Homo sapiens: one gene and its partners. The protein of the gene in region 3 purifies or fractionates together with the protein of the main gene of each other region. This does not show direct contact. Each region holds a gene or a part of one and is shown on either strand. Other genes may lie near its edges.

What was found.
Region 1: the proteins of RFC4 (region 3) and CD58 purify together in Homo sapiens (affinity purification with mass spectrometry; one large-scale study listed by BioGRID and IntAct). This does not show direct contact.
Region 2: the proteins of RFC4 (region 3) and SCEL purify together in Homo sapiens (co-immunoprecipitation; one large-scale study listed by IntAct). This does not show direct contact.

The regions. Positions count from the first base shown.
Region 1 is NC_000001.11:116,568,910-116,572,661, forward strand, and holds the start of CD58 (lymphocyte function-associated antigen 3), read right to left. Parts: upstream 2,118-3,752; 5' UTR 2,064-2,117; coding exon 1,994-2,063; intron 1-1,993. UniProt on the Homo sapiens protein: Ligand of the T-lymphocyte CD2 glycoprotein.
Region 2 is NC_000013.11:77,534,186-77,537,937, forward strand, and holds the start of SCEL (sciellin), read left to right. Parts: upstream 1-1,520; 5' UTR 1,521-1,639; intron 1,640-3,752. UniProt on the Homo sapiens protein: May function in the assembly or regulation of proteins in the cornified envelope. The LIM domain may be involved in homotypic or heterotypic associations and may function to localize sciellin to the cornified envelope.
Region 3 is NC_000003.12:186,792,845-186,796,496, forward strand, and holds part of RFC4 (replication factor C subunit 4), read right to left. Parts: intron 1,934-3,652; coding exon 1,814-1,933; intron 104-1,813; coding exon 1-103. UniProt on the Homo sapiens protein: Subunit of the replication factor C (RFC) complex which acts during elongation of primed DNA templates by DNA polymerases delta and epsilon, and is necessary for ATP-dependent loading of proliferating cell nuclear antigen (PCNA) onto primed DNA.

The DNA of each region.
Region 1 (3,752 bases), on a different chromosome or scaffold from region 3:
GCTTGGGTCCCCAAAAGGGGATATACCCATTCAGTCTTGTCTTTAGTTTAAGGCCTATGCAGAGCAGTTTATAAATACATGTTTGCTGAATCAAATGACTTCTGAATGAATACATGAATTAGGTGAGAGAGATCACCAGGAAGGGACAGTTCAAATAATCTGTTGGAGGTGGAGCTTGGGCAAACTGGGTTTGCAGTGGAAGGGAGAACACAGGTACAGGCAGCAGTGACCCAAGGTGCCAGGGAATGAGGGACCAGCTTGCCTGGAGGAGAGTTACCCCATCCATTCAATTAATCCCTGTTTGTATCTCTTCTTTTCCCCAGCCACCCGCACATGAACTCCCCAGAGCTATTTGGGCCCTGTGATGGTAGTCCACCCTGGCCTTCTGGCCTCCCTGCCTCCAATTCCTCCTGACTGCAGCCTTCCTCTTTGTTGCTAACAGATTCTTCTTCCCAGGCGCATGGTCCTGATCCTGTAAGGCCCAGGAGAAGCTCTCTCAGCTCAGAGAATCCAGACTCCCTAAGGGGACACTCAGCAATCTTTTCCCACATTATCACATGTCCACACATCACCAGTCCTTGAAGGCTGGGCTCAAATATCCTCCCTCCCATGAAGACTGCTTCACAAAAGACACTTGATTTCACAAAAGAGACTGCCTTCTTCTTCCCTCTGTACCCTCACAGCTCACCTTTTTTTTTTTTTTTTTTTTTTGAGACAGGTCATATTCTGTCACCCAGGCTGGAGTTCAGTGGCACAATCACAGCTCACTGCATCCTCTGCCTCCGGGACTCAGGTGATTCTCCCACCTCAGCCTTCCGAGTAGCTGGGACTATAGGTATGCGCCACCACGCTCAGCTAATTTTTGTATTTTTTGTAGAGCCGATCTTTCACCGTGTTGGCCCTGCTGGTCTCCGATTCCTGGCCTCAAGTGATCCACCTGCCTCAGCCTCCCAAAGTGCTAGGATGACAGGTGTAAGCCACCACGCCCAGCCCAGGCCTCTTACAACACTGACTTATCTGATCGTGCGGGTACTTTTGAGTCTATCTCAACCCCTCCCCCTTGGCTGTCTTCCATAGATGCACACGCGCACCTCCCGGGCAGGCAGCGGACGCTGAGCAAACGGACGGACGGGCTGGAGGGCTGGCAGTGGGGTGCAGGAGCCAGCCATGAGAACCCCTCAAGTACAGTTGAACTCGCTGGGAGGTTACTGCTGTACTCCCGGGGTTTTGCTATGGCCTGACTGGGGCCAATGTGTGGAGGGTGAAGGAGGATGGGGAGGCAAAATGGGAAGAAGGGGACCTATTTCCTGAGGTTGTTGTGACGACTTGGCTGACAACACACGGAGAGGATGGAACCAGTTCTGATACTAGTTTTTAGGATTTGAGGGGAGGAAAAAGGAGCAGGAGTCGCACCACTTAGGAATCCCAACGTGAGGCCGCTGCCGACTGGGCTTCCTAGTTGCCTACCCGCTCCTCGCTGTGGGGCGATTCTGAAAAGTCCTCTCTGCTGATACGGCGGACGCCGCGCGGGCGGGGACGGCACCGCGCGGGGAGGGCAGCAGGCGTCGCCCTCGAGCAGGTGGCATCCGCGCCCGCTCCCCGTCCCGGGCGCGTTCACGGCTGGGAAAAATTTTGCAGTCCGCTGAAGCGCTCAGCGACGTTACTGGGGAAGCCCAGGAAGGAACTTGGTCACTGGAGCTCGGGAGGGGGCCGGCGGGGGGGCGCAGGCCCCGCAGGAGAGGCTAGCGGGCCGGAGCCCGTCCTTCCCTAAGGCCACACAGTTCCTTGCTGACTCCATGAGGGACACTGGCGATGAAATAACAACTTTCTCTTCCTGAAAAGGCTCCCACGGCTGAGTTGTTCCCGGCCCACAGCGACCCGTCCCCACCCGTCTCTGATCGGCAACCGCCTCGAGCCCGGCGCGTCCACCCAGCCTGGGTGCTGCCCAGTACCCGCCGGCCGGCGCGGGGCCCCTGGGGCAGGCTTCACTCACCAAAGCAGTGCAGCAGGCAGACCACGCTGAGGACCCCCAGGGCCCGCCCCGCGTCGCTCCCAGCAACCATGGCTCGTCGGGCCGGCCTCTGCGCGAGTGCCCAGCCACAAGCAGCCCTAAGTTCAAGCACCGCCTACGCGGTCGGCCAGAAGTAGGGCTCCGCCCCGCCCTGGGCTGGCAGCCGGCGGCCCGCCCCGGCCCTTCCTCCCCCACCCTCCGCGGCGCCGCGTTTGTCTTCGCGCTTCCACTCCCCGGGCGCGCCTCTGGCCTCGGCTCTGCGCGCCTCCTTCCTGTGTCCCCGGGGCGCCGTCCAGTCCCCCAGCTCGGTCCCTCCCGTCATTCCGCCGCCATTCCATACGCTATTTTTAAGTAAGAAATTCTTTCCTTGAAAATGGCTTGGTTTTAAAAACCAAGGTTTTAAAGTAAGAAATTCTTTCCTTGAAAATGGCTTGGTTTTAAAAACCAGGTTTCTCTGCCTTCCTACCGCACCTCCCGCGCTTCCCCTTAGCGTTTGGGGCGTGCTGTAGGCCCCTCCGTGGCTAGACGGGGCTGTGGCTCCCAGAGAGCCACCGGAGGAGGCAGCAGGACGGGCGGGAGCACCCGGGGCCCCTCATCCCTTCAGCGCTGTGTGATCCCGCATCAGACGGCCTCTTTGAACCACTTTTCCTCAAACATGACAAGGAAAGGGAGCATTTTAGACAACTGTTAGGCGTAGGGTTACCTGAGGCAGGCCTCCCCCGTCCCCATACTCCCTTATCCCCGGAGCTGGGATTTCCAGCCTTTGGTTTCTCCCTTCTCAGATTCCTCTTTTTCTGTCTTCCCCCATCTCAACCGGGACTTTCCCTCAGGCTGAGATGTCAGATCCACATCTCCCTCACTGCCCAGCCTCCCCACATCCATCCAGCCCAAGCTGAGGCAGGCACTCATCACTCTCCCCGCTCTTCATCAGTCTGGATTGAGCTGGCCCTCCCCTCACATCCCTATATCCCAGAACAAATGACCCTATTCCCAGAACCAGCTCCTCACATCAGCCTCCCTGTCTGTCCCCTTTCTTGCAGACAGAAGCACCAGAGTTGCCCCTGCCCAGCTGAGGGAGTTCACAGAACTCTTAGTTATTATGTGAGCAGGAATCCATTTCCATGAACAGGACTCCCTGCTGCCCAAATAACCACCAACACATACATGGTGCAGGTTGTGAAACTGAGTGGGAATGTGCTTTCTTGCTGCTTCACCTCCATTATCCCCAGGTGGGGACTCGAAGTCACTCAAGACACTTGAACCATATTGCAAAGAGACATGAATTATTTCTTAAGTTAGCCATAAAATCTTAAAAGGTATCTCTATCAGTGAAACTTCTGGGACCAATGCCCTCTACCACAAACCTGCTATCTCGAGATATTCCCTACCATCTGTAGATACTGGGAACACAAGGCAGGGGCAGTGTGTAACATAAAATATGAGGAAATCAAGTGTTCTCTGCCCTGGGCTGGTAGGAACTCAGGCCAACTTAGAAAGGCAGGATGGGGTTAGACCTTCAGACACTGGGGAGCCACAGAAAGTTTTTGAGCTGGGAAGTGATATGACAGCAAACATCTATTGAGCAGGCCCTGTGTGAAGTGCATTGCTTGGATTAACTTAGTCTTACTGCTGCTGTTGTTTTTGCAAATGAGGAAACTGATGCCTGGGGAAGGTAAATTACTCAGGGCACACAGTAAAGGGCAGAACTTGGAGTCCAGCTGAGGCCATGTCCAATGCCTCT
Region 2 (3,752 bases), on a different chromosome or scaffold from region 3:
GTAACAGGAGTCCCCGCCTAGAATGGCTCTTCAGTGTTACTCCTTCCTCCCAGCGGAAGCAGCCTTTGTTTTTTGTTGGGTTTTTTTTGTTTTTTTTGTCTGTTTGTTTTGTTTTTTGAGATAGGGTCTCACTCTGTCACCCATACTGGAATGCGGTGGTGTGATCACAGCTCACTGTGGCTTGGTCCTCCCATGCTCAAGAGACTCTCTTTGCCTCAGCCTCCTGAGTAACTGGGACCAAAGACATGCACTACCACACCCAGCTGATTTTTTTATTTTTAGTAGAGATGAGATCTTCTCTTACTGTGTTGCCCAGTTTGTCTCGAACTTCTTGGCTCAAGTGATCCTCCCACCTTGGCCTCCCAAAGTGCAAGTGAAAGCCACTGCAACTGGCCAGAAGCAGCCTTTGATGTTGGGTCTACTGCTGCCCTCAGCATTGAAAGAAGTTTCAACCATCCTTTTCACATTTTTTTTTTTTTTCTGAGACAGTCTCACTCTGTTGCCTAGGCTAGAGTGCAGTGGTGTGATCTTGGCTCACTGTAACCTCCACTTCCCTGGTTCAAGTGATTCTCCTGCCTCCTCCTGCCAGAGTGGATGAATGGTTCTTCTTCTTCTTGACCATCTAATCATTGTCCACTCAGACTTTAAAACTCTGCATCAACATCACCTTCCAGGTTCTTCCTTCTCTCCACTATGCGATGCCTGGCATTGAAAATTTCTGTATATGACTTTATCATGGTGTGTTATAGTTATTTAATATAGCTGGGGTTACAGGTGTGTGCCATCACGCCCAGCTAATTTTTATATTTTTAGTAGAGATCAGGTTTTACCATGTTGGCCAGGCTGATCTTGAACTGCTGACCTCAGGTGATCCGCCTGCTTCCACCGCCCAAAGTCCTGGGATTACAGATGTGAGCCACCACGCCTGGCCCCTTTTCACATTTTTTTATACATGGATAAATAAGATAGAGATTAGAATTCTTACATGCTAGGTGTATTTTCCCTCTGATAGTTTTACAAAATAGTCTAGGTGTAGAATGTGTGGAACAGACTTCTTTTGTGTTTTCTAATCCTAGGGTTCCTGGGTTTCTGAGAATTTGTTTGTCTTGAAGATTCCTTTAAGCCATATACTCCTTGCATGCTTGTCTGTGCCCCTGCCTTCCAGGTACTATGGGTGTATGGGGGTTCCTTCTATCTTGAGTTTTCAATTTTATTTTTTGAAAGAGAATACAAAATAGGTTGGGTCCTATGCCACCTTGTCAGTGATATGGTTGTGCATACTGTTGATATCAGTTAAAAGGGTGATCACAGGAGCATATATATATATATGTTTTTTTTTTTTTTGCATAAGGCCATAAGTTAAACAAAGAATTCAAACAAAGACAGTAGGTATATGAGTGAGAATGCTTTAATTGAACTGGTATTTGTACAAGGTGACACCCTGTTGCATACCACACACCTCCTCCCTGAGTGACTCAGCCGCTGAGCAAGAAACCTCTGAACTGTTCACTAATACAGTCAGGTAGAGGTTGAGACTCCACTGAATAAACTCTAGGTTCCCATTTCTTTCAGCCAGATCCTCCCAGGGAATCACTACAGGCTGGTTAGCCAAAAAGTCCTGATTTTCTGCTCAATAGAGGTAAGTTGAATTATACTTGCAAACAGAAATACATCTGCTGTATGTGCACAGCTTTCTCTGTGTTCCTTACAAATGATTAAAATTAGAACTTACTGTATTATCTTTGTCTTTTCTTCCTGTAAATTTTGACAGCCTCCAGCTGGCTGTTAGCTCTGCTCTTCCTTGCTGTACTTTTAGGTCACATTGCATTGAACTTCTTGGCAATTTTACACGTTATGGGCATCACAGAAACGAGCACCTATTTGATTTTCTGGGTGGGAGCTGTCAGCTGGTGAATCCTGCCACACAAAGGATAATAAATTCTTTAAGTGAAGGGACCAGCACCTGCTGGTTTATTTTCTCAAGCGACTATACAAACATTTTTTAAAGGATCTTTCTGTTTTCATAAATGATGCTTTTAGTGAAATAGTGAACTCAAATATTGCTTTATAGTTAATAAGTCATATTTATTTTTTTCTCTACTGCTAAAAATATTGCAAGTTGCTGAGCTATGAGAGAGAGAGAGGTTTATATTTATGAGGTTTTTGTCTCCACCCTATCTTCCCCAAATAAGAAAATCACCATTTCTCACTTGAAAGTACCAAGGAGTAAAGGCAGGGTGTGGGAGCAGAATAAGGGTACATGGTTCCTCACAGGGATCTGTGGGCATCTGGCCAACTTCTCTATGGTATATTCTGCATTCTAACCTAAGGAGTGATTAATGTATATGGGGGCAATTTTCAAACTTTATTCATAGCCTAGTCCTGAAAAACCAGTTTTGGGAGACTTTTGATAAGGCTAGAAGAGTTCTTTTAACAGAGCTTTCTTTTATAATTAATAGCTAAGCTGACTTGTGTTTTTTCTCATCATTTCTATTTATGATACAGAGCTGTGGGATTCAAATGCAGGGGCCACTCACAGCTTGCAAATTGCAGCTCTGTGTCCTCCAGAGAGGTGCCCCCACAGCATACCTGGCTCTATCTGTAGTACTTGAGTTCTCATGGCTTCCTATTGCTGACAAGGTCACCTGCAGTCTGAGAGGGGGTTAGACACACCAGTGCTCATTTCCCAAAGGTTTACAGAAGAATTTTACAACTTGGCTTTCAAGTGTTTATAGTAACCAGAAAACTAAAGTGTAGCAAGTGTGGATAATTTTATTTTTCATAAAATGTGATTACATTTAAAACTGTCTTTCACTTCCATAGTTTATAACGTAGATAAAGCCTTCCTAATATATGTGGTGCTCCAGTGTTTAAAGTATTGGAAACATCAATTTGAGAAAACTGAGAAATGACAACAGTAAAAATTTTAGTAAAACATTCAGATGATCCTAAATGTCGGGATATGCATAGAATGCCAACAACAGGCCAGAATTTTTATTGGAATGTTAGCGTCGTATAAATCTTAGATCTAATTGACAGAATATTTCAACTGAAACGGAGCATAGGCCCATCTAGTCTAATGCCTGAATTTTCTAGTTGAGAAAATCAAAGCATAAATGTTAAGCAACTTGTGAAGATCAGAGTAGCAGAACCAGAGCACGATGCCAGATTGCTTGTCTTTTGTCTTACTGAATTTTCTCAATATTTTTTCAAATGCTTTTTATCATAAAATATGTAGTAGCAATAAATGAGCCACACTCCATCACAGACTGTGGTTACCCAGCACATGTGGAAATATTATAGTGTGTATGGTATGACTAAGACATAATAGAATACGTTTTCCAACTTGTGGCTTATGGAATCAGTGTTGCCGTTTATTATATTTATGAGATTTTCATCTCAGGAGCCAGTAGCCCCTCAGCAGGGAGGGGATCTGATGTATGTGTGTTAGCTGTGGTCTGTACAATCAGAACACCCTTGCCTCGAATGCCATTCTGTAGGTGATGCTTACCTGACTGCCTTCTCAGACTACCAGAATTATGATGAAATACCTGAGAGGTTCATATTCCTGGGGACTATGTAAACAAAACAAATTTTGAATGACTGAGCTCATACTGTGGAATGAACTGAACACAATTCACGAAGCCGTCAAATTAAGCAAACATTGTTTAACTGAGAGTATCTTATACGGTTCAGGCATCAACTCCCAGCATTTCTTAAGAGTGAGGGGATAAAATCTTTGGCCTTGCAGT
Region 3 (3,652 bases):
CGACTCCTTCTCCATGGTACGTCTTAAAGCTGCCTGAGCAGCTGAGGTCATAGAATCTGCTTCATCCAGAATCACAATCTTAAAAGGCGGACACGGCTTCCCACTGATTCAGAGAAACACATAAGAGTTGAACATTAATATGTATATTGGTTTTAACAGCTTTGTTGAAAGATACACGTACCATACAATTCACCCATTTAAAATGTACAATTCAGTGTTTTTCTGTATGTTCACAAAGTTGTGCAACCATTACCACAATCTAATTTTAGAACATTTTTATCACTCCTAAAAGAAACTTTGTACCTATTAGGAGTCACTCTTCTTCCCCCAGTCATTCCCAGCTCTAGGCAATCATTAGTCTACTTTCATCTCTATAGATTTGCCTATTCTGGACATGATATGAATGGAACATATAATATGCAGTCTTTTGTGGCTGACTTCTTCCACTTAACATATTTTAAAGGTTCATCCATATTGTAGCATGTGTTTGCGTCATTCCTTTGTATTGTCAAATACTATGGCAAATAGATACACCACATTTATTCATCCATTAATCGGTTGGACATTTGGGCTGTTTCCATGTTTTGGCTATTAAGAATAATGCTGCTGTGAACATTTGTGTACATGTTTTTGAGCAGACATGTCTTCCAAGAGGCTGTACCATTTTACATTCCAACCAGCAATGTATGCGGTTTACCATTTCTCCACATCCTTGTCAATGCTAGTTATTTTCTGTATTTTTTATCATAGCCATCCTAGTGGGAGTTACGTGGTATTTCAATGTGGCTTTGATTTTCATTTCCCAAATGGATAATGATGTTGATGAGCATCTTTTAATGTGCTTATTACACATGCACGAAATGTCTATGCAGATCCTTTGCCTTTTTTTTTTTTTTGAGATAGAGTCTTGCTCTGTCGCCCAGGCTGGAGTGCAGTGGTGCGATCTTGGCTCACTGCAAGCTCTGCCTCCTGGGTTCACGCCATACTCCTGCCTCAGCCTCCCGAGTAGCTGGGACTACAGGCGCCCGCCACCACACCCAGCTAATTTTTTGTATTTTTAGTAGAGATGGGGTTTCACCATGTTCGCCAGGATGGTCTCGATCTCCTGACCTTGTGATCCACCTGCCTCGGCCTCCCAAAGTGCTGGGATTACAGGTGTGAACCACTGCGCCCGGCCTTTGCCCATTTTTTAATTGGGTTATTTGTTTTTATTACTGAGTTTTTAAAGTTCTTCATATGTTCTAGATATAAGTACCTTTTTAGGTATATGATTTGTAAATATTTTCTCCCACGTTGCGGGTTATTACCTTCTGTACATTGATTTTTGGTAATCTGCCATTAAAGTTTTTCTCCCACCAAAAGTGGCATTAACATAATTGTATGAAAATTATACCAAGAAAACAGATTTCAAGTATTAATGGTAGAAGGGATCTCAGAGTCTTTTAGTCCACCTCCCAGTCTTCATTTCACATAAAAATACATTAGGTGCTATAGCGGTTGTGACTGACTGCACCATCAATTTAAGGTGCATATCAAAAATTAGTCATTCACTTTCACAAATTTTGAAATGTGCTCATGTAAAATTTACACATATGTCTAGGTACCACCAATGTAATCCTGGACCTTTGCCACCTAAGGAGCATAAGTAGTTGATTAAATCCCTGTTTACCTCAGGCAGGATAGTCTTCTAACATGAAAAGTTGACAATTTGGCAGAAATACACTTGATCTTAGCCAAAAGGCTGAGGAGCGATGGCAGAAATACATATTTAAAATAATACATGCTATGGAGGAGGGAGGGCAAATTTACTTACTCTGAGCGACTTCCTGACACAGTTAATTGAGCAAAATTTTTCACTTTCTCTCGAACTACTTGTATTCCACGTTCATCAGATGCATTTAACTCAAGAACTCTTAATCGGAAAAGTTCAGGCCTATCTCAAAATGAAACAAATATGAAACATAGAGCACAAGTAGGCTTAAATCACATTTTAACATTTGCACACTTTGCAGACGTTTAAAATCCACCTAGTAAACAACATGGATAGAAGGCACACAATCACTTTTGCATTCTCGCTTCAGCAGAGTGCTGCAGTTAACATTTTGGCTTTTTTCCATGCATTTAAAAAAATGTAGACATTACATAACATATACAATTTCTTTTCTTTTTATTTTTTTGGAGACAAGGTCTTGCTCTGTCACTCAGGCTGGAGAACAGTGGCATGATGATGGCTCACTGCAGCCTTGAACTCCTGGGCTCAAATGATCCTCCCACCTTAGCTTCCCAACTAGCTGGGACTATAGGCACATGCCATCACACCTGGCTAATTTTGTTTACTTTTTGTAGAGGCAGGGACTCATTATGTGGCCAGGCTGGTCTCAGGTGATCCTTCCACCTTGGCCTCCCAAAATGTTGGGATTACAGGTGTGAGGCACCACACCTGGCCCCACATATAAAATTTTAAATCGATTTTCCACTTTGCATTTATAATAAGTATCTTGGCATATTATCAAAACCACTGTAAATAACATTTTAATAGTCATATGATATTCCATCCTATGACTGTACCATCATTTACTTCACATTCTTCTATTGTTAGACATCTAGATAGTTTTAAATACTGTAATTTTAAATAATGTTATAATATAGCACATTTTAAATTATTTCCGGCCGGATGTGGTGGCTCATGCCTGTAATCCCAGCACTTTGGGAGGCCGAGGCGGGTGGATCACGAGGTCAGGAGTTCGAGACCAGCCTGACCAACGTGGTGAAACCCTGTCTCTACTAAAAATACAAAAATTAGCTGGGCGTGGTTACAGGCACCTGTAGTGCCAGCTACTCAGGAGGCTGAGGCAGGAGGATTGCTTGAACCCGGGATGTGGAGGTTGCAGTGAGCCGAGATCGCACCACTGCACTCCAGCCTGGGCAATAGAGCGAGACACTGTCTCAAAAATAAATAAATAAACAAATAAATAAATAAATTCCACAGGGTAGTTTGCTATAAGGAAACCTACTGGATTAAGGAAAATTAATGGATTAAAACATGAGCAGGTTTTTAAAGTGAGTTTTAATAAAAATTACTAAAAGTAATATATGCTTACTGTAGAGAAATTTGAGAAATCAAAAGAAAAAAGTGGGCACACTGTCAAAGCACTGTTTTTGAAACTTCCCTCTAGTCTTTTACACACACACACACACACACACACACACATTTAAATAAAAAACAAGAGTTGTGATTTAGTTTCATCTCTATTTTTCCTAATCAGCATGGTATCCTAAGCATGTTTATGGACATAAACATTTACATGCATCTATTTTCTATTTTAAAGCCACAATATTAAATATGAAATTCACTGTTAAAGTAAGTTCTTTAAAGACAAACATTATTTCATAAAGGATATAGAAAAAGTTGTATAATCTGGACTGACCTACTCTAAGTAATAATAAACAACTGTTAAGGCTGATTCAGATTGGTTCTATCTGATTGAGTTGTGGAATAATCAAAAAAGTTCTTCTATAATTTTACTGAGAATAAAAAATTGCTGTCAAATAAAATATTAGGCACATAGCAGCTTCTCCCTTTGTCTTTTACATTTTGACATAACTAATAATCCTTACACATTTGGTGATTTCAGTGGCGTCTTTTTTTTTT